Homo sapiens: one gene and its partner. The protein of the gene in region 2 interacts with the protein of the main gene of each other region in a pairwise test. Each region holds a gene or a part of one and is shown on either strand. Other genes may lie near its edges.

The links. The genes of interacting proteins can lie anywhere in the genome.
Region 1: the proteins of TMEM9B (region 2) and FKBP6 interact in binary tests that used the Homo sapiens proteins (3 or more experiments, as listed by UniProt).

The regions. Positions count from the first base shown.
Region 1 is NC_000007.14:73,338,161-73,345,628, forward strand, and holds part of FKBP6 (inactive peptidyl-prolyl cis-trans isomerase FKBP6), read left to right. Parts: intron 1-2,477; coding exon 2,478-2,672; intron 2,673-3,095; coding exon of another isoform or gene 3,096-3,112; coding exon 3,113-3,222; intron 3,223-4,646; coding exon 4,647-4,737; 3' UTR 4,738-4,739; intron 4,740-7,468. UniProt on the Homo sapiens protein: Has an essential role in spermatogenesis. It is required to repress transposable elements and prevent their mobilization, which is essential for the germline integrity.
Region 2 is NC_000011.10:8,953,861-8,961,796, reverse strand, and holds part of TMEM9B (transmembrane protein 9B isoform a precursor), read left to right. Parts: intron 1-5,498; coding exon 5,499-5,607; intron 5,608-7,936. UniProt on the Homo sapiens protein: Enhances production of pro-inflammatory cytokines induced by TNF, IL1B, and TLR ligands. Has a role in TNF activation of both the NF-kappaB and MAPK pathways.

The DNA of each region.
Region 1 (7,468 bases), on a different chromosome or scaffold from region 2:
GATTACAGGCACCTGCCACCACACCTGGCTAATTTTTGTATTTTTAGTAGAGACAGGGTGTCACCATGTTGGCCAGGCTGGTCTTGAACTTCTGACCTCAGATGATCCGCCCACCTCAGCCTCCCAAAGTGCTGGGATTACAGGCATGAGCCACCGCACCCGGACCCTCGTTCTTTTGTAAGGCTACTTTTCCGTTGGATGGCTCTGCTGCTTTTTGTCCATTCATCAGTTGGACATGTGGGTTGTTTCCACTTCGTGATTATTATGACTGATGCAGTGAGCGTTTATGTACAAGTTGTCGTGTGAACACGTTTTCAGTTTTCTTGGGTATGTGCCTAGGAGTGCAATTGCTGGATTGTGTGGGAACTGTCAAAATTTTTGAGGAACTGCCAAACTGCTTCCTACAGCAGCTGTACCATCTTACATTCCCACGAGTAATGTGCGAAGCTTCCAATTTCTCCACATCTTCACCAACACTTATTTTATATTTTTAAAGTTAGGCATCTTAGCGGATGTGAAGTGGTATCTCACTGTGGTTTTGATTTGCATTTCCCTGATGACTGATGACATTGGACATATTTTCATGCATTTAATGACTATTTGTCTATCTTCTTTGGAAAAATGTCTATTCGGAGTCTATGCATATCTGAAAGTTGGGTCATCTGTCTTTGTACTGAGGAGTAAATGTTGCTGCTGTGCTCTGGATACTACACCCTCAACAAACACAGGATGCGCAAATGCTCTATGCTGTTCTGTGGGCTGTCTGCACTTTCTTTGCAGTGTCCATTGAAACACAAAAGTTTTACATTTTGATGAAGTCTAATTCTTTGCTTATTTGTGCTTTTGGTGTTATATCTAAGAAACCATTTTCTAATCCAGGGTCACAAAAATTTACACCTATTTGTACTTCTAAAGTCTGATAGTTTTTTAAAAAAATATATGAAATGCTTTATGAATTTGCATGTCATCTTTGCACAGGGGCCATGCGATCTTCTCCCTGTCTTTCCAATTTTTAGTATATGTGCTGCCGAAGCCAGCGCAGAGTCTTAGAGTTTTAACTCCTACTTTTAGGGCTATGCTCCACTTTAGTTAATTTTTGCATCTAGTGCAAGGTAAACATTCTTTTGCATGTTGATAGTCTCTCGTCCCAGCATTATTTGTTGAAAAGACAGTTCTCTCCCATTGAATGGTCTGGACACCCTTATTGAAAATCAGTTGACTGTAGATATATAAATCTATTTCTGGACTCTGTGTTCAATTTCATTGATCTACATGTCTGTCCTTATGCCGGTGCTACACTGGCGTAATTACTGTAGCTTTAGGAAGTTTCGTGTTTTTTGTTTATTTTTTGTCTTTTAGTAAGTTTTGAAATGGGAAATATGAGTTCTCCAGCTTTGTCCTTTCTCAAGAGTATTTTGGCTATTCAGGGTCCTTTGAATTTCCATGTGACTCTTTTTTTTTTTTTTTTTTTGAGGTGGAGTCTTGCACTGTCACCTAGGCTGGAGTGCAGTGGTGTGGTCTCGGTTCACCACAACCTCCGCCTCCCATGTTCAAGTGATTCTCCTGCCTCAGCCTCCAATGTAGCTGGAATTACAGGCACCTGCCACCACACCCAGCTGATTTCGTATTTTTAGTAGAGATGGGGTTTCACCATGTTGGCCAGACGGGTCTCGAACTCCCGACCTCAGGTGATCTGCCCGCCTCAGCCTCCCAAAGTGCTGGGATTACAGGCATGAGCCACTGTGCCTGGCCACCATATGAATTATCTAATCAACTTGTCTGTGTCTACAAAAAAGGCTGTTGAAATTTTGGTAGGGTTGCATGAATATGTTGACCAGTTAGGAAAATATTACCATCTTAATATTGTCTTCCAATTAATGAACATGAGATATTTTTCCATTTTATTTGAATCATCTTTAATTTCTTTCAACAACCATTTTGTAGTTTTCAGTGTGCAAGTCTTTCAGTTGTTTTAAGTTTATTGCTACTTACTGTATTCTTTTTGATGCTATTGTAAATGGAGTTGTTTTCTTAATTTCATTTTTGGGTAGTTCGTTGCTAGAGCATAGAAATATACCTGACTTTTGGCCGGGCATGGTGGCTCACGCCTGTAATCCCAACACTTTGGGAGGCTGAGGCAGGTGGATCACGAGGTCAGGAGATCGAGACCATCCTGGCCAAAATGGTCATATTAAAATATGAAAAAATTAGCCGGGCATGGTGGTGCACACCTGTAGTCCCAGCTACTCAGAAGGCGGAGGTTGCAGTGAGCTGAGATCACTCCAGCCTGGCGACAGAACAAGACTCCGTCTGAAAAAAGAAGAAAAAAGAAATATACCTGACTTCTTATGTTGATCTTGTGTCTTGCAACCTGTAACAGCCGATTTTTAGCTCTGATAGTTTTTGCGTGTGGATTCTTTAGGGTTTTGTACATAAGACTGTTACTCCTCTTGACCATCTGCCTTCCCTCTCCACAGGCCCTATTGCTTCTGCGCCGGCGATCAGCACCCCCTGAAGAGCAGCACCTGGTGGAGGCCGCCAAGCTTCCTGTTCTCCTGAACCTGTCCTTTACATACCTGAAGCTAGACCGACCCACCATAGCCCTGTGCTATGGAGAGCAGGCTTTGATCATTGACCAAAAGAATGCCAAGGCCCTCTTCAGGTGTGGACAGGTGAGTTGGAAGCCAGTGACTTGGGAATAAACACCCAGGAAAAGGTAGTAGCAGTGCTCAACTCAGCTACTGCAAAAATGCTGTCTTTTTTTTTTTTTTTTTTTTTTTTAGACAGAGTTTTGCTCTTGTTGCCCAGGATGGAGTGCAGTGGCGCAAATTCGGCTCGCTGCAACCTCCGCTTCCTGGCTTCAAGCAATTTTCCTGCCTCAGCCTCTCAAGTAGCTGGGATTACAGGCATGCGCCATCACACCCAGCTAATTTTTGTAGTTTTAGTAGAGATAGGGTTTTGCCGTGTTGGCCAGGCTGGTCTGGAATCCCTGACCTCAGTTGATCCGCCCGCCTTGGCCTCCCAAAGTGCTGGGATTACAGGCATGAGCCACCGTGCCCAGCCAAATGATATCTTTTCTAACTGTGCTTTTAAAGTTCTCTCCTTGGGACAGGCTTGTCTTCTCCTGACTGAGTATCAAAAGGCCCGGGATTTTCTAGTTCGAGCCCAGAAGGAGCAACCCTTCAATCATGACATCAATAATGAGCTGAAGAAACTGGCTAGGTGAGCTGTGTTTGCAGGAGCATGAAGAGAGATGGGTGGGGTTGTGACTCTGGTCTGTCCCCCCACCCCCCCCAACAAAGGACAGTCTGGCGGTGTTGCCCAGAGTGTTAGGAGGCCGCCCCCTCTACAGCTGGGTTTCTGAAGTGCTCGGCCGTGCGCTGCACCAGCAGTTCCCAGCAAGCAGGTGAGACAGACTGCCAGACTATACATCTCCATCATCGCCCACCTTTCTGTTTCCCCTACCGCAAATAAACAACCCCTAGAGAGGTGGGAGGGTGTCACTTTTTTTTTTTTTTTTTGAGATGGAGTCCCTCTCTGTCACCTAGGCTATAGGGCAATGGCATGATCTCGGCTCACTGCAACCTCCGCGTCCCGAGTTCAGACGATTCTCCTGTCTCAGCCTCCAAGGTAGCTGGGATTACAGGCGTGTACCACCACATCTGGCTAATTGTTTTTGTATTTTAGTTGAGACAGGGTTTCACCGTGTTGACCAGGCTGGTCTCAAACTCCTGACCTCAGGTGATCCCCCCACCTCGTCCTTCCAAAGTGCTGGGATTACAGGCACAAGCCACCACAACTGGCCCCGGTGTCACTTAAAAAGAGTCTTCTGGTGCGCTCTTCCCTGCGTGCTCCACCAAGAACCACTGCTCCTAACCAAGTGCAGAAAGGCCCCTCGTAGGTCCTCATGTGACCAGAAACAGGCGTTTCGGGTCTGACTCATACCCATGGATTGACCTCCTTGTTACCCACGTGACTAAGCACACCAGTCTTTTAGTGATGTAATTTTTTCTCATTATAGAAGTTTTGTGTCCATTGTAGAAAACCTTGAAAATGTCTACCTATAAATAGGAGTCCCCCATAACTCCATCACTTGGTAATAGGTCCATGGTTTTTAAGGTATATCTTCTTCTGTAATGGTGAAATTCTCTACTTGTCTTAATATTAAACATTCGGTCCAGATTGCTAGTTAAAGCTTGCTTGGCATTAGTGTCTGAGATGTGAGTATCTCTTAGGTTACATTTCAAGCCTTTTAGGACTTGCCAGCAATTTCCTTTCTGGTATTTAAAAGTATCCTGTCAGATCTGGTCATTCTTTAGTGAGAAAATCAGGAGAGGTTAGAGGCTGCTGAGGGTGAGGGGTCGTTTGGCGAGACTCAGCCCGGAGCCTGGTGGCCAGAGGCACCTGCCCTTCAAGGCAGCTGTCCTTTCCAGTTAGGGGGTTTTGTCCAGGGGCTTGGCTCCTTGGCCAGCTGTGGGAGCCTTCCCTGCCTCCCCACCTCTCCAGCTTACTTCCATCCCTCCCAACTCAGTTTGAGTCCTGATAAATTTTCAGTGTTTCTGGATGTGAGTGGAGAATTCCAGCCACCAGATGTCACCTCCTCCAAACACAGACCTCCTCTAACAAGTGTGTATTTCCCTCTCCAGCTGTTACAGGGACTATGTGGATAAAGAGAAAGAAATGTGGCACCGCATGTTCGCGCCCTGTGGCGATGGTTCTACAGCAGGAGAAAGTTGAAGGTAATCAAAGGGCCAGGGTGGCACACAGGCTTCCGGATGGAGAAGCGTGCTGCTCTCCTCCACCCCCAAGTGAATGGTGGCTGTCTGCAGCTGAGGGTGGACGAGGGGTAGACAAGTTCCTTGCTGTAAAGAACAACACAACGGTAGTGCAGGATGCACGTGCTGCACGCCTACCTTTCCCGTGAGAAGAAAGTTCGCCCAGACCTGTGGGTTAAATGTATAGGTTCAGGGGGCCTTGAGCTATTTATTTATTTATTTGTTTGTTTGTTTGTTTGAGGCAGAGTCTCACTCTGTTGCCCAGGCTGGAGTGCAGTGGTGCGATCTCAGCTCACTGCAAGCTCCGCCTCCCAGGTTCAAGCGATTCTTCTGCCTCAGCCTCCTGAGTAGCCGAGATTACAGCTGTGAGCCGTGGCGCTCAGCCTAAATTTATTTTTTAAAAAACCTTTTTTTTTCATGTTTTATGTGAAACTCTCCTTGCAGTTGCTTGGAACATGAGACTGAGTAGAGTCATGAATGTGATGGTTGATAGAGCTGGGCTTTGACGTGTCAAGCTTCTGTTCATCTTCTTTCTCCTGAGAACTCGAAAGCCTCCAACTTGACTGTGTCTCTAACACATTACTAAAGCAGACAAGATCGCAGGGTGGGGATGGGCTGTGGCTCTTAAATTCTACTTTCTATTAGACTTAGAGATTTGAAGATGCTGAAAGCAACAGGGAGCGGAATATAGCATTCCTCCCAAGATCACACCTAGTAATTTTGCAGGCACAGGGCGGGAGTTCCCAAGCACATGAGATAACCCTCCAGTCTGAACCCTCCAGTCTGGTCTACTATTTAATAAAATTAATGGAAACAAAATCACCTGCCTGAAACACCTGCTTAGCTGCACAGATAACTCTGCTCTCTCGGAGAAGTCAAACAAGGAACAACAAGAAAACAGCTGCTGAACGGGCTCATGGTGATAAATCTCTCCTTTGTTGCTTCCTCCATCTCCCTACAAAAGGGGCTTGAGAGGAGGAGGCAGTGAAAAGGCCTATTCATCCCCGACATTTTCATAGCGGTCCATAAACTGCTGCTATCTGCACTTTCAGATGCGCCCACCAGCATCACAGGTAAATGTTGCCTTCGTCACTGATGCTGGCCATGTGAACCCTGGCCTTCAGGTCTTTCAGTGGCCTTTGGAGTACATATTTGCAGGTCTTCAGAACTGAGATGTGAGCCAGAGGACTTCCCTTGTTTGGTCACTTCTAGTATCCAGTAAAAATGAAGGGCAGTGACTGTTTGCCAAACATTTTGGACTGTGACCCCACAAGTCCTGTCATGAATGAAGACCCAGGTCTGCCAGGGTCCATCCCAGACAAGGGCTTGGGCAGCCCAGCTGGGCAGCAGTTTTCCTCGCCATCATGTTTGCTTCCCAGCCTTTTCAGTCTGTAGGACTGGAGGCTGCTGATCTTCAGATGCTTTCCCCCAGATTTCCAACTCCAGCATTTATCTTACCATCAGCAATGACTGTATTTGTGTTCTAAAGTAGCCACCACTGTCATATTGCCACTGCTGTCACAGTTGTGATAAGTTTTAGCTTTTGTGTCTTTGCTCTCCCTGCTCCCCTTTTTTTCTGTAGTATTTGAGGCCTAGTCATTTAAAAGAAGCTAAAAATCCAGTCATCTTGACAACCTAGTTGTCACTAACCAGGACAATTTTTTTTTTTTTAAGGGTCTCCCTCTGTCACCCAGGCTGGAGTGCAATGGCACAATCTTGGCTCACTGCAGCCTCTGCCTCCCAGATTCAAGTGATCCTCCTGCCTCAGCCTCCCGAGTAGCTGGGACTGCAGGTGTGAGCCACCACGCCTGGCTAATTTTTGTATTTTTAGTAGAGACAGGGTTTCACCATATTGGTCAGGCTGGTCTCAAACTCCTGACCTCAGGTGGTCCTCCCGCCTTGGCCTCCCAAAGTGCTGGGATTACAGGCCTGAGCCACTGCACCTGGCTTAGGACAATTTTAACTTTTGTTCTTTTCATCTTAGATGTTAGATACCACTGACTTGTAAGATTACTTCTGGAGGAATGAGTGTTCTCTTAAGTATTAGTTATGTGCTCTAAGCCTCTGACTATAGTAGACAGTATGCCTTTTCCATCTTTGCATTTTCTAGCTTCTGGAGCCATGCCAGGTGCACGATTGGTGCTCAGGAAATGTTGGTTGGACTAAGTGTGAAATAGCCGAAGCAACAGACCAGCCTCTAATAAAACATCCTCCAGGCTGGCTCTGGGATTGGCTGTTGGACCCTTGGTATTGCCAGGGACAGAAACCTATCTTTAGCATCAGCCAGAAAAAAAAAAAAAAAAAAAAAGATTTGCAGAAGGGGTCCTGGGAGTGGCTCACAGAGTTGAGGAGGAGTTTGGCAGTCCTTGGGCAGACAGTGACCAGGCAGCTCTGAGGGCCTTAGGGACTCAGTCTCCCCTCGGCTTTGTTTTCTCCCCCTGTAGGGAGTGCCCATACATCCCTTTCTGCAACCTCCTCCCTAATGGAGTGAGAGTTCTGTACCCTAAAAGTCCCTCCTCTTCCTGCCCCAAACATAACTCTTCAGTTTGAAAGATCCTGGGCAGGACTCCGGCCTGGTTGGGGGTATGTAGAACCCCATGAATGGGAGTTTGTGTTTTGTCCTTCCTATCCTGACATGCTGGTATCTGAGGCCCTTGTGATCATTTTACTGTGTCTGGAAAGGAGCTGTGAAG
Region 2 (7,936 bases):
TTTTGGTGAGGGACCTTTCTCCCTCTTGCTTTTCAGTGGAAGGTTAGCAAGCCTCGTTTGTCTGGGTTATAATTTTTACAACTTGTAGGTTTTGATGATGTATTGCCAAGTATGGGAAGCTATGTTTAAAAGTGTCAGAAGGCTCAAGAAGAAGTGGAAATGAGCTATGTAGTCAGAGTTTCCCATTTGGTGTAAATGAAGAAGTTACAGTTGTGCCAAGATATTGACCTGTTCAGTCCTTGGGCAGTCAGGCAGGCCTGTGATGACTGGGGGATCCTGACTGACTAGCCACCAGCAGCCTTCTCTGCTTATCCCAGCAGACCTGACAAATAGCTTTTTCTACGTGTGCCATGAAGCAGTTGGGATGCAGTTGTATTACAGCAGGATGAATGTGTTCCTTCCCATAGAATTGTGATGTTTTATGGTTTGTAACCACGGTGGAAGATGGATGGGATAGGAATTTAGGAAAAATAGTTCCAAATGGTAGGAGCTTTCACGTGTATCTGATTTCATAGCTAAATAGCCATCAAAGAGTTAGAAAGCAAGATTAAATTCATTCAGTTAACAGTATTCCAACCTGACTTTAAAAAAGAAAAGGCAGCCTTTGAGTATGTTTAGTTTCTCTGATGCCACTGTCTGTTCTTCCCTGATACGCATTTAGGTTCAGTCTCATATTTGTTAAGTGTGTTCTTGAGAACTTCTTGTGAACCTCTATGTTCCACTGTAAGTGGTGTCATATTAACCAAGCGATTTGGCCATATTCTTAAAGGTTTTATATCAGGAAGTTACTTTATATGATACAAGAATGTTCAGGCCGGGCACGGTGGCTCACGCCTGTAATCCCAGCACTCTGGGAGGCTGAGGCAGGCGGATCACCTGAGGTCAGGAGTTCGAGACCAGCCTGGCCAACAGAGTGAAACCCTGTCTCTACTAAAAATACAAAAAAAATTAGCCGGGCTTGGTGGCGGGTGCCTGTAATCCCAGCCACTCGGGAGGCCGAGGCAGGAGAATCGCTTGAACCCGGGAGGCAGAGCTTGCAGTGAGCCGAGATCGCGCCACTGCACTCCAGCCTGGGTGACAGAGCGAGACCCTAGCTCAAAAAAAAAAAAAAAGAATGTTCAAATAAATCTTTATGTTACTTCTATAAATTTTCCAAATTTATTCAGTGCTTACAGTTTATTCTGTTATCAGTAATGAAATGCAATGCCTGTCTTTTGAGTAGCAAATGAACTCACTATTCAAGTGGTTAGCACTAATCTTTTCACTAACTTTTCATTATTTCAGACTCAGACAGGACCATATGTCATTAACCCCTGGTTATTAGTAAAAATAGCTTTGGCTTTGAAAACAGTTGAGGCAGGACATGGTGGCTCACACCTGTAATCCCAGCACTTTGGGAGGCCAAGGCAGGTGGATCACTTGAGGCCAGGAGTTCAAGAACAGCCTGGCCAACATGGTGAAACCCCGACTCTACTAAAAATATAAAAATTAGCTGGGCATGGTGGCACACGCCTGTAATTCCAGCTACTCGGAAGGCTAAGGTAGAGAATCGCTTGAGCCGCAGAGGTAGAGGTTGCAGTGAGCTGAGATTGTGCCACTGCCCTCTAACCTGGGTGACAGAGCATGACTCTGTCTCAAAAAAAAAAAAAAAAAAAAAACAGAAACAAAGAAAATAAACAGTTGAGAATAAGGCTTGCTTGGGGTTTTTCTTCCCTCTCTCCCACTCTCCCTTGTTTCTTTTCTGCAGCTTAGCATTTTTCTAGGGATAAGTTCCCAGCTGGCACTGAAAAATTTTAACTGACTTTACGGGGCAGGCAAGTTATGATTCACCAGAATTATGGCTTTACGAGGCCTCCAGTATCTGTGAGGGCCTAGATATAGTTTTACCTTTTGTTTTCTGGGCCTTTCATTTTGTCCAGTTTTTATCTTTAAGTCTTCATTGACTTATGCTGGCTGACTTAAAACTTAAGAGTAGTTGGAGTGCTCTAGTTTGTGTTTGGGGTGATTTAAAGCTAATGATGTGTTACTTTTGGCACTAGGGGGAGGTGTTGCCTAGTTCCTTAAGTGGTTAACCTCTGACTAGGTCTAGCTCTGTTTGTAATGACTGGTCAGCCAAAATCAACCTTCCTGCTTTCTCTCCAGCTGGGCACAACTTTTGCACAGCACTCAAGTATCTTTTTGTTATTAAAATATATCCTTCAAAAGAAATACTCAATACTTACTTAGCACTTAAAATTCCCAAGTCATTCTTAGGTATTGTTGCCAAAGCTTCTGAAGCTGAAGTAGGAAACTAAATAGATCAGTTTCATTTTCCCGAGGTTCAGAGGTAAAGAACTGACGTAGGAAGCAGGAGTCCTGGATTCTGGTCCTTTCTGTTTTTTTTATTGCTAGAGTGCAGTGGCACGATCATAGCTCATTGCAGCCTTGATCTCCTAGGCTCCAGTGGTCCTCCAGCCTCAGCCTCCTGTGTAGCTGGGACTACAGGTGTGTACCATCAACCTGGCTAATTTTTATTTTTGTCGACACTGGGTCTCACTATGTTGCCCAGGCTGGTCTCAAGTTGGCTTCAAGTGATCCTCACATGTTGGCCTCCTAAAACTCTGGGATTATAGGGATAAGCCACCATGCGTGGCCTGATCCTTTTTCAAATATGATTTTACTCTGTGACCTTCTCTAAGCCTGAGGCTAGATGAGCTCTCTGATCCTCAGATAGATAACACCTGTTATGGGATATAGTTCCCTCTGCCCATTTTGTGCCTGCATCCAGTTGGGTACATGCCTGGTCTTCTGTATATTTGGAACAGATATCACACACTTTTATGGTGAGAGTTGTGGGGCCTTACCCGTATTTGAAATACCATCAGTGGAAATTTAATTTTTCATTACTACCTTTGTTAAAATTAAATTACCTGTTAAGAATAACCTGGGCCGGGTGCGGTGACTCATGCCTGTAATGCCAGCACTTTGGGAGGCCGAGGCAGGCACATCACCTGAAGTTGGGAGTTTGAGACCAGCCTGACCAACATGGAAAAACCCCATCTCTACTAAAAATACAAAATTAGTCGGGCATGGTAGCGCATGCCTGTAATCCCAGCTACTAGGGAGGCTGAGGCAGGAGAATCACTTGAACCCTGGAGGAAGAGGTTGTGTTGAGGAAGATCACACCATTGCACTCCAGCCTGGGCAACAAGAGTGAAACTCTGTCTCAAAAAAAAAAAAAAAGAATAACCTAACAACTTCTATCATATACCGTTTTGGTTATTTTTTCTAATGCCACAGTTTAGAGGGAACAGAACATGAAAATATGAATTTCTAGAAATTAACTTTTTTTTTTTTGAGACAGAGTCTCACTCTGTTGCCCAGGCTGAGTGCAATGGCGCGATCTCGGCTCACTACAACCTCTGCCTCCCAGGTTCAAGTGATTCTCCTGCCTCAGCCTCCTGAGTAGCTGGGATTACAGGCATGTGCCACCATGCCCAGATAATTTTTTGTATTTTTAGTAGAAATGGGGTTTCACCCTGTTGGTCAGGCAGGTCTTGAACTCCTGACCTCATGATCCAACCGCCTCGGCCTCCCAAAGTGCTGAGATTACAGGCGTGAGCCACCACACCCGGCCTTTTTTTTTTTTTTTTTTTTTGAGACGGAGTTTCGCTGTCATTGCCCAGGCTGGAGTGCAATGGCACGATCTCGGCTGACCGTAACCTCCACCTCCCAGGTTCAAGCGATTCTCAAGTCTCAGCCTCCTGAGTAGCTGGGATTACAGGCATGCACCACCATGCCTGGCTAATTTTTTTGTATTTTTAGTAGAGACGGGGTTTCTCCATGTTGGTCAGGCTGGTCTCGAACTCCCAACCTCAGGTGATCTTCCCGCCTCGGCCTCCCAAAGTGCTGGGATTACAGGCATGAGCCACTGCGCCCGGCTGAAATTAATTTTTAATTGACACAATAACTGTACGTATTTATGGGATACATAGTGATGTTTCAATTCATATAAGATATAGTGATTTGATCAGAATATTTAGCATCTCAGACATTTATCATTTCTTTGTGTTGAAAATATTCAAAATCCTCCTTCTAGCTATTTGAAACTATAATATATATTATTGTTGACTATAGTCATCCTACAGGGATATAGAACACTAGAACTTATTCCTCCCACCAAGCTGTAACTTTGTTTCCAAAAAGTACATTTTGGTGGGGAAAGAGAAGGAATCACTCTATAGAGTATTGGGTGTCCCCAAGAGAATGGGTAAGATAAGATAGGATGGTGTAGTAGAGTGCTTGAGGCAGCCAGGAATGCCTAACGAAGAGATGCCAAAAGGAAAGAAAATTGTCCAACAGCTGGCAGGAGGACAGGAAAGCTTTCCCTAATTTTGCTGAAGGTGATCAGAGTCATAGACTCTTAATAGTTGAGGAGAATAATAATTTAGTTATTGCTTAGAATTGACAGATTTCTAGGAAAAATCTGATAGCACTGTGTTTACACAAACCATAAATAATTAGCCTTGAAAATGGGGTTGGGGAAATAAGTAACATTCAACAAAAACACTCATCCCTTTGTTAGTTTTTATTTAGTTCTTTGGAATAACCAGTTTTTGTTTTAAAATATTTTAGTTATTCTATTTCTCCTTGCTTTTTCAGATTTGCTCATTAAGAAAAGTGATTGTTTCTTCCTGTGTGTGGCTTTGAGGGTTCAATTTTCAGAGTTTCAGAATTTACCACGCTGTTAAACGTGGTTAGTCATTCATACACCACACTGGCAGTTAAGAATGATGTTGGCTGGGCACGGTGGCTCACACCTGTAATCCCGGCACTTTAGGAGGCCAAGATAGGAGGATCACTTGAGGCCAGGTATTCAAGACAAGTTAGGTCAACAAACCAAGACCTGATCTCTACAACAAATCTAAAAATTAGCCAGGCATGGTGGCAGGCTCCTGTAATCATAGCTGCTCTGGAGGTTGAGGCAGGAGGATCACTTGAGCCCAGGAGTCTGAGGCTGCAGTGAGCTATGATGGCACCACTCCACTACAGCCCATGTGACAGAGCAAGACCTTGTCTCTTAAAAAACAACAACAAAAAAGAATGATGTTAATTCACAAAAGAGATAATCTTATATTTGAACAGTGCCCCATATCACTTTAAACCATTTTAAGTAGTTTTCCTTAGTAACTGAACAAGTCTAAAGGTGACTTGATTTGTTAAGTAGTTTTTCATCCCATTTGGGATTTTTTGTGTGCGTTTTTGTAACTGTTAACAGTAGCAGCTTTGAAAATAGACACTACTATATGTGTGACTTTGTGGCTTCTTAAATGGTTAAAACTTACCAAAATGCTAATATTGAGAGCAGAAATTATTTTACTTTATCTTATTGATTATTTGTTTTTTATGCTCTTTCATTGGGTAAGTTTAGTGATTATTCTAGATTTCAGGAAACTTTTGGTCAGAGCAAGCAGAAGAGCTAGCTGGGCTTAAGCAGCATTTTATCTTTGTTTTTTCAGTGATTGCCTTCATGTTGTGGAGCCCATGCCTGTGCGGGGGCCTGATGTAGAAGCATACTGTCTACGCTGTGAATGCAAATATGAAGAAAGAAGCTCTGTCACAATCAAGGTAAAATATATATCCCTCTATCTACCTGTCTGTCTGTCTGTCTACGTCTTTTCTGCTTCTGGATGGTTTCTAGACAAGACAGAAAAATTTGGACCCCTACCCCAAAAGGAATAATGGGCCTGTTCTGCCTGCCTCACTGACATGGTTTGTGGATTAGTTAGGGTATGTTAGATAGATATGTGAAATGGCACAAAAATGCCCTATGTGTAATTAGCATATTCCAGAAAGATATCCCAGCTTCTGTGTAGGCCATGTGTGCCAGAGGCTGAGAGAGCAGCATTTATAAGCCCTCCTCTCCTTGCCTTTCCAGCCCTTTGAAAAAATTAAATATATAGTAATTATTCTAGAACTATTACTTCTGGATTTTAAGATTTCCCCTCTTCATTTCCTGTAGGACAGTGGTCCCCAGCCCCCAGGCCACAGCCCAGTCTGTGGTCTGTTAGGAACTGGGCCACTCAGCAGGAGGTGAGCAGTGGGCAAGTGAGCAAAGCTTCATCTTATTTACAGCTGCTCCCCATCATTCGCATTACCACCTGAGCTCCACCTCCTGTCAGATGAGCAGCAGCATTAGATTCTCATAGGAGCATGAACTCTATTGTGGACTGCACATGTGAGGGATCTAGGCTGCATGCTCCTTATGAGAATGAGAATCTAATGCCTGATGATCTGTCACTGACTCCCATCACCCCCATATGGGACCGTCTAGTTGCAGGAAAACAAGCTCAGGGCTCCCACTGATTCTATGTTATGGTGAACTGTATAATTATTTCATTATATATTATAATGTAATAATAATAGAAATAAAGTGCACAATAAATGTAATGTGCTAGAATCATACCCAAACCATCCCCTACCACCCCTGGTCCATGAAAAAATTGTCTTCCATGAAACTGGTCCCGTCCCTGGTGCCAAAAAGGTTGTGGAGTATTGCTGTAGTAAATGGGATGTAGATCACTCTCATCACCATTTGTATTTCTAATGAGTTCAGTTACTTTATTATAGTGGCTAATGGTTTTTCTTCCAATTTTTTTTTTTTTTTGAGATGGAGTCTTGCTCTATTGCCCAGGCTGGAGTGCAGTGGTGTAATCTTGGCTCACTGCAACCTCCGCCTCCTGGGTCCAAGCGATTCTCCTGCCTCAGCCTCCTGAGTAGCTGGGATTACAGGCATGCACCACCACGCCCAGCTAATTTTTGTATTTTTAGTAGAGACAGGATTTCACCATGTTGGTCAGGCTGGTCTCGAACTCCTGACCTCGTGGTCCACCCATCTTGGCCTCCCAAAGTGCTGGGATTGCAGGTGTGAGCCACCGCGCCTGGCCTAATTTTTTTTTACATGGCACTTCCCATTCCTTTCCCCCCAAAAGGCCCTGTGGGGAATGTGGGGTGGTTAGTTATAATAGTCACAAACATTTCTGCTGTGATTGACCCTGTGGAAGAGCTCTTGCTCCAGCAGGGTGCTGAACTTTAGATAAATCCTCACTGTACTATTATTTAACAGATTTGTAAAAAATATACAACTTATGTACCCTAAAAGTCACTCACTATAAGTATACAATTCTATAAATTTTAGTAGATTTAAAACATTTTAAAATCCAGTTTCAGGCCAGGCATGGTGGCTCACATCTATAATCCCAGCACTTTGGAAGTCCGAGGCGGGTGGATCACTTGAGGTCAGGAGTTCGAGACCAGCCTGTCCAACGTGGTGAAACCCCATCTCTACTAAAAATATAAAAATTAGCCAGGTGTGGTGGCACGCACCTGTAGTCCCAGCTACTTGGGAGGCTACGGCATGAGAATCACTTGATCCTGGAGGCAGAGGTTGCAGTGAGCTGAGATCGTGCCACTGCACTCCAGTGAGACTCTGTCTCAAAAAAAAAAAAATAAAATCCAGTTTCAGAACATTCCCACTACCCCAAAAAGATCCCTCATGCCCATTTACAGTTAATTCCCATTTCCAGCCCTACTCGGTCACTAGTCTACTTTCTGTCTCTGCATACATGGACATTTCATGTATATGGAATCATATAATATATAGTCTTCTGTGACTGGCTTCTTTCATTTAGCACAATGTTTTTGATGTTTATGCAAGTTGTAGCATGTATCAGTACTTCGTTTCTTTTTATTGCTGAATAGTATTTCACTATATGAATATGCATTTATCAGTTGATGGACGTTTGGATTATGTCTGGGTTTTTACTATTATGAATAATACTGTTGTGAATATCTGCACATATGTCTTTGTATGGATATATATGTTTTCCATTCTCTTGGGTTAATTCCTTAGAATGGTAAAATTATGTTTAACTTTTTAAGAGACTGCCAGATTGTT